Linked DNA regions of Homo sapiens. The protein of the gene in region 1 purifies or fractionates together with the protein of each later gene. This does not show direct contact. Each region holds a gene or a part of one and is shown in the gene's direction. Other genes may lie near its edges.

Region 1 (3,945 bases):
TCTTATCTCAGATATTTCACCCTATATTTGTGTCAATTCCCAACTCAGTCGTAACGGACAAAATGAAGGATTGTCATCATCATTAATAAGATCATTAGGCACCACAGGCCCAGCAAGCCTGGGCCACCACACTTAAATGTGAACAGGTACACCAGGTTGATTGGACAAGATCGTCTGTGCCTTTTACTTGGCAGAATCCATTGCAGTGACTCAGGATTTAACCTAAACACATTTAACTGAAACTCCTGCCCAGAGACCTCCACGTGCTGGAGAAGGCAGAGTAAACTGAGGAATGAATGCCCTCATTGTGCTGTGAGAGCAGACATGAAATTTATCACAGTACAACCGATGGTGGAAGGGCAAAAGTTGGTTTAGGTTGTGCACTGTATAGGGAGAAGCCAGGAGAAGGTTGGGTTTTTTCCAGATTTCAGTGTAAATTGTTTCATCCTCCAGACTTTGAATTTCTAGGCTGAAGAGTGCTAACCTGTTTTGGCCGCATCTCTCACTCATTCTAATGTCTGTATCAGCAAGACAAAATTTGAACTATGCGGCAAATTGTACCGAAGACTTTGCTCAAGATAATTGTGAATATGGAAGTTGTCCCGCGGGGAGGTGGGAAGGGGAAGGACATTTTCAGCAGAACTGCCAGCGCTATGGTGGTTTAATGCTGACACAGAGACAGTTTTTTCTCTCAGGAATTGTCTTTCATCCATCAGTCCAGCCAGCCAGCCAGCCAGCAAATTTTAACACACAGAAAGTACGAAGCAACATATCTAACACTGGGAGGGGCTGGGGTGTGTTTATTTGGGTATATACAATGAGTCATGGATTAAAATTGCTTCCAGCGGATAGATACCTAGGTGTTCCACAGCATTACTGAACAAGCTGTCGTCATTTCCCCATTACCTCAGAAGACCCCCTTAATTACTTACTTATATTAACTGTAGAACGTATTTATGCATACCAGGCTCTACCTCTGGGCTTTCTATTCTGTTCCAGAGACCCAGTACCAGAATATTTAAATCACTGTGGCGTTAAATACGTTTTAATATCTGATAGGGCCAGTTTCTGCGCATTGCACATTTTTTTTTCCCCTTTCAGGAACGTGTTCAGGCCCGCGGCAGGGGGCGGGATCGCGCCTCCTCCTCGGCTCTGGTTCCAGCCGAGCCTCTCGGACGCAGAGATGGAAATCCCGAAGCTGCTCCCGGCTCGCGGGACACTACAGGGCGGCGGCGGCGGCGGTATCCCCGCGGGTGGCGGCCGAGTCCACCGAGGCCCTGACTCGCCGGCTGGCCAGGTCCCCACGCGCCGCCTCCTGCTGCTCCGGGGCCCCCAAGATGGCGGGCCCGGGCGGCGGCGCGAGGAGGCCAGCACGGCATCACGGGGCCCTGGCCCAAGCCTGTTGGCGCCGAGGACCGATCAACCTAGCGGCGGCGGCGGCGGCGGCGGCGACGACTTCTTCCTGGTGCTGCTTGACCCGGTGGGTGGCGACGTGGAGACCGCGGGCTCCGGTCAGGCCGCAGGGCCTGTGTTGAGGGAGGAGGCCGAGGAGGGCCCGGGGCTCCAGGGGGGCGAGAGCGGCGCGAATCCCGCGGGGCCCACTGCGCTAGGCCCCCGCTGCCTGTCCGCGGTTCCCACTCCGGCCCCGATCTCCGCCCCCGGCCCCGCCGCGGCCTTCGCGGGCACAGTCACTATCCACAACCAGGACCTGCTGTTGCGCTTTGAGAACGGCGTCCTCACCCTGGCCACGCCCCCACCACACGCCTGGGAGCCAGGGGCCGCTCCTGCCCAGCAGCCCGGGTGTCTGATCGCCCCGCAAGCTGGGTTCCCGCATGCCGCGCACCCGGGTGACTGCCCAGAGCTGCCGCCAGACCTCCTGCTAGCTGAGCCGGCCGAACCCGCGCCAGCTCCGGCGCCTGAGGAGGAGGCGGAGGGCCCGGCCGCCGCCCTGGGCCCCCGCGGACCGCTGGGCTCCGGCCCAGGCGTGGTGCTGTACTTGTGCCCCGAGGCGCAGTGCGGGCAAACCTTCGCCAAGAAGCACCAGCTGAAGGTGCACCTGCTGACGCACAGCAGCAGCCAGGGCCAGAGGCCCTTCAAATGCCCCCTGGGTGGCTGCGGCTGGACCTTCACCACCTCTTACAAGCTCAAGAGGCACCTGCAGTCGCACGACAAACTGCGGCCCTTTGGCTGCCCGGCAGAGGGCTGTGGCAAGAGCTTCACCACAGTGTACAACCTCAAGGCGCACATGAAGGGCCATGAGCAGGAGAACTCATTCAAATGCGAGGTGTGCGAGGAGAGCTTCCCCACGCAGGCCAAACTCAGCGCCCACCAGCGCAGCCACTTCGAACCGGAGAGGCCTTACCAGTGCGCGTTTTCTGGCTGCAAGAAGACATTTATCACAGTGAGTGCTCTGTTTTCCCATAACCGCGCCCATTTCAGGGAACAGGAACTGTTTTCCTGCTCTTTTCCTGGCTGCAGCAAACAATATGACAAGGCTTGTAGGCTGAAAATTCACCTGCGGAGTCACACCGGCGAGAGACCTTTCCTTTGTGACTTTGATGGCTGTGGCTGGAACTTCACTAGCATGTCCAAACTCTTAAGGCACAAAAGAAAGCACGACGATGACCGGAGGTTCATGTGCCCTGTGGAAGGCTGTGGGAAATCTTTCACGAGGGCGGAACATCTGAAAGGCCACAGCATAACCCACCTGGGCACAAAGCCTTTCGTGTGTCCTGTGGCAGGCTGCTGTGCCAGGTTCTCTGCTCGCAGTAGCCTCTACATTCACTCCAAGAAACACCTGCAGGATGTGGACACTTGGAAAAGCCGTTGCCCGATCTCCTCTTGTAATAAACTCTTCACATCCAAGCACAGCATGAAGACGCACATGGTTAAAAGGCATAAGGTGGGCCAGGATCTCTTAGCTCAGCTAGAAGCAGCAAATTCTCTCACACCCAGCAGTGAACTTACCAGCCAGAGACAGAATGATCTCAGTGATGCAGAGATAGTGTCTCTCTTCTCTGATGTACCTGACAGTACTTCTGCTGCATTGCTGGACACAGCATTGGTGAACTCTGGAATCTTGACTATTGATGTGGCTTCTGTGAGCTCGACTCTGGCAGGGCACCTCCCTGCTAATAATAATAATTCCGTAGGGCAGGCTGTGGACCCTCCGTCCTTGATGGCCACCAGCGACCCTCCTCAAAGTCTGGATACCTCTCTCTTTTTTGGAACGGCGGCCACTGGTTTTCAGCAGAGCTCCTTAAATATGGATGAGGTCTCAAGTGTAAGTGTGGGGCCATTGGGATCTCTGGACTCTTTGGCCATGAAAAACTCCAGTCCAGAGCCTCAGGCTTTGACACCCAGCAGTAAGCTAACAGTGGACACAGATGCTCTGACTCCTTCGAGCACCCTTTGTGAAAACAGTGTCTCAGAACTACTGACACCAACCAAAGCGGAGTGGAACGTACATCCTGACTCTGACTTCTTTGGACAGGAGGGAGAAACCCAGTTTGGATTCCCCAATGCAGCAGGAAACCATGGTTCTCAGAAAGAAACAGATCTTATCACTGTGACTGGCAGCTCATTTTTGGTATGAACCAACTCTATTCATTCCTCATCATGTGGCTTACTTTTATTACAGTCAATTTTGAGGATATTCTGGACTAAATATTTAAGTGCAGTCATTTCTTTTTGGTTTGCAAAAAGAGCACAGCCCTGGACTACAAGTTTGGAGATTTAAATTCTGATCTTGAGTTTGGAACTGACAAGTTGTGTGACCCTGAGCAAGTCAGTTAACCTATCTGAGCCTTAATTTCCTTATTTATAAATTGAGGTGGTTTGAATAGATTGCTTTTAAGGTCTTTCTGCTCTGTGATTCCTTGATAATACATTTCTTTCCTTGAAAAATATGAGGACGTTTTTCAGTGATGTGGCATGCGTTTTTTT
Region 2 (3,500 bases), on another chromosome or scaffold:
CCCAGCACTTTGGGAGGCTGAGGTGGGCAGATCACTTGACGTCAGGAGTTCGAGACCAGTCTAGCCAACATGGTGAAACCCCATCTTAACTAAAAATACAAAAATTAGGCTGGGTGCGGTGGCTCACGCCTGTAATCCCAGCACTTGGGAGGGCTGAGGCGGGCAGATCACGAGGTCAAGAGATCAAGACCATCCTGGCCAGCACCAACATGGTGAAACCCCATCTCTACTAAAAATACAAAAACTAGCTGGGCATAGTGGCACATGCCTGTAATCCCAGCTACTCGGGAGGCTGAGGCAGGAGTAATCGCTTGAACCGGGGAAGCAGAAGTAGCCATGAGCCGAGATCGTGCCACTGCACTCCAGCCTGGTGACAGAGCGAGACTGTCTCCAAAAAAAAAAAAAAATTAGCCATGCATGCTGGCAGGCGCCTGTAATCCCAGCTGCTCAGGAGCCTGAGGCAGGAGAATCACCTGAACCTGGGAGGTGGAGGTTGCGGTGAGCCGAAATTGTACCACTGCACTCCAGCCTGGGCGACAGAGCGAGACTTCGTCTCAAAAAAAAGAATTGGGGGTTGTGATATCAGCTCCCATGTGTCAAGTACCTATGTGTGCCAGGCTCTAGGCATAGCATGTTGACAATTCATTTTCTCATTGAATCCCCACAACCTCTCCCTTTTTTTTTTTTTTTTTTTTGAGATGGAGTCTCATTGTGTTACCCAGCCGGGAGTGCAGTGGTGCAATCTCGGCTCACTGCAACCTCCGCTTCCCGGGTTCATGTGATTCTCCTGCCTCAGCTTCCCAAGCAGCTGGGATTACAGGTGCACACTGCCACGCCTGGCTAATTTTCGTATTTTTAGTTGAGACAGGGTCTCACCATGTTGCCCAGGCTGGTCTCAAACCCCTGACCTCAAGTTATCAGCCCACTTTGGCCTCCCAAAGTACTGGGATTACAGGTGTGAGCCACTGCGCTTGCCCCACAACCTCCCTGTGATTCCCATTTTATAGATGAGGGCTTCAAGGCTTAGTGAGATGCAGGAACAAACTAAGGTTACCAGCCAGAGCTGGAGGGAGAGCAAGAAGAGAGGGCAGGGTTGAGGGAGGGGTTAGCTTTTCCAAGTAGATGAGGTTTGGGCATGTTCCACTGAAGGGAACGGGCCAGGTAGATGTGCCGGGAGAGAGGAATGCTTGCTGGCATGGCCTTTTTGGGGAGGTGGAGGAGTAGCTTCCAGATCTGATGCAGTTATACCCTTCGGTGGGGAGGCAGGGAGATGGGGGTGTTGTGCCTGAGTCCTCTTTTGACCCTGTTGCTGTAGGACTGTGAGAGGAAGAGTGGAGTAAGAACCTTGGAAAGTGGAGAAAAGTTGCTCCAGTCCAGGCGCGGTGGCTCACACATGTAATCCCAGCACTTTGGGAGGCCGAGGCAGGAGGATCTCTTGAGCCCAGAAGTTCGAGACCAGTCTGGCTAACAACAACAACAAAAAAAGCCAGGCATAGTGGCACATGCCTGTGGTCCCAGCTTCTGGGGAGGCTGAGTCGGGAGGATTGCTTGAGCCTAGGAGGTTGAGGAGGCTGCAGTAAACAGTGATTGTGCCGCTGCACTGTATCCTGGAGACAGAGCAAGCCTCTCGCCTGGGCCTCCCCATGCTGGAAGGCCTTGCCAGAGCTGGGGCCTGGGAGTGAGGGGAGAAGAGGCTGCTGGCTGGCTCCACAGGGTAAAGGTGTGGTGGAATGATGAGGACCTGGGGCTGTGCTGGGACAGGAGAGGGCAAAGTACGGGCCCTGGGGTCTGGGCAGGGTGGAGGAGGAAGTTGGGAAGAGGGTGATGTGCTAGAGGGAAACTGAAGGATGGGAAGTTGAAGGTGCAGTGGGGCAGACTGAATGGACAGTGGGGAATGTTGGAGAGGATGGGGAATCTCCAAGGCGGAGCCATTCTGGGATTGACAAGGCCAGGTGTGTGGCTGCTTGAGGGGAGCTGAGGGTGATTGAAGGGGATCACTGGAGATGCAAGAATCCAGGTAAACAGGCGTGATTGCCAAGTCCCCTGGGGAGGTGGCAGAGGTGGAAGAGGAGAGGAAGATGCAGGCAGCCCCTTGGTGTCTGGATAGTGAGAGGGCACGACAAGGGAGTCTGAGTTACCGAGGACAGAGGAGCCGTGGCTCAGAGCAAGGGGTGCTTAGTGAAGGCTCACTGTGTTTCTTCTCTTTTTTTTTTGAGATGGAGTCTCGCTTTGTCACCAGGCTGGAATGCAGTGGTGCCATCTCGACTTACTGCATCCTCAGCCTCCCAGGTTCAAGTGATTCTCCTGCCTCAGCCTCCCGAGTAGGTGGGACTAAGGCACGCGCCATCACGCCCGCTAATTTTTGTATTTTTAGTAGAGACGGGATTTCACCATGTTGGTCAGGATGGTCTCGATCTCTTGACCTCATGGTCCACCCGCCTCGGCCTCCCAAAGTGCTGGGATTACAGGCGTGAGCCCCCTCGCCCGGCCAGCTCACCGAGTTTCTAATAACCAGAACCAGTTTCAGTCACCACCGTCTTAGTGATTGCCGCCTGGGGATGTTAGTGATGGCCCTGGGGAGGGGCAGGTTATGCAGTAGGAACTGGCTTCTGGGGCCTCGCCCCATGGACCTGAGCGTGGCAGTAGAGCAGTTCTCAGAGGAAGGTGGTGGGAGTCATATTGACTGGGCAGGTGCCCCCAAAAGTTGTCTCCTAAATGAGAGGGATGGGCAGGTTCCCTTTGGGACAGTCGCAGAGGGAAGTGTGTGTGCAGCAGCTGTGCTGGTGGAGGAGTGTGTTCTTCGAGCGAGGCTTCCCGAGGACATGCATGCTGAAGCGTGAGGTGGTCTGTAGGGGGCGCTGCCCCAGCGTGGTGGGGAGGAAGGTGAGAGGAGGCCTGCATGCATCTGGGTCCTCACTGGCTTCCTGGAGTGGGTTGCTGCCACAGGCTGAGACCCCAGCGGGTGTCTAGAGCCTAAGGTGCAGCCAAGAGCCTGGCTCAGGGCGCCAGGGTTGGGAGTGCGGTGGACTCAGGTGAATCGCTGCCTCCTAGGGCCGGGCCTGGTGCCGGCGGCCCTGTTGGCGCTGAGCGGGGAAGCCAGTTGTGAAGCCAGTGAGTCCGTGGGCTGCAGTTCAGAGCATGAGCTCAACCCACATGGCCTGGGAGCAGAGCTTGTTCTGTCATCTGGTAACTGACCACATCTCTGTGCCTCAGTTTTCCTGTCTGTAAGATAGGACCCTCTGCTGGGTACAGTGGCTCACGCCTGTAACCCCAGCACTTTGGGAGGCCGAGGCGGGCAGATCACGAGGTCAAGAGATCGAGACCATCCTGGCCAACATGGTGAAACCCTGCTTCTACTAAAAATACAAAACTTAGCTGGGTGTGGTGGTGCATGCCTGTAGTCCCAGCTACTCGGGAGGCTGAGGCAGGAGAATCGCTTGAACCCGGGAGGCGGAGGTTGCAGTAAGCCGAGATTGCGCCACTGCACTCCCACCTGGCGA

The links. Proteins that work in one complex are often made in the same cells at the same time.
Region 2: the proteins of ZXDB (region 1) and SETD1A purify together in Homo sapiens (affinity purification with mass spectrometry; one large-scale study listed by BioGRID and IntAct). This does not show direct contact.

The regions. Positions count from the first base shown.
Region 1 is NC_000023.11:57,590,866-57,594,810, forward strand, and holds the start of ZXDB (zinc finger X-linked protein ZXDB), read left to right. Parts: upstream 1-1,145; 5' UTR 1,146-1,183; coding exon 1,184-3,595; 3' UTR 3,596-3,945. UniProt on the Homo sapiens protein: Cooperates with CIITA to promote transcription of MHC class I and MHC class II genes.
Region 2 is NC_000016.10:30,974,754-30,978,253, forward strand, and holds part of SETD1A (histone-lysine N-methyltransferase SETD1A), read left to right. Parts: intron 1-3,500. UniProt on the Homo sapiens protein: Histone methyltransferase that catalyzes methyl group transfer from S-adenosyl-L-methionine to the epsilon-amino group of 'Lys-4' of histone H3 (H3K4) via a non-processive mechanism.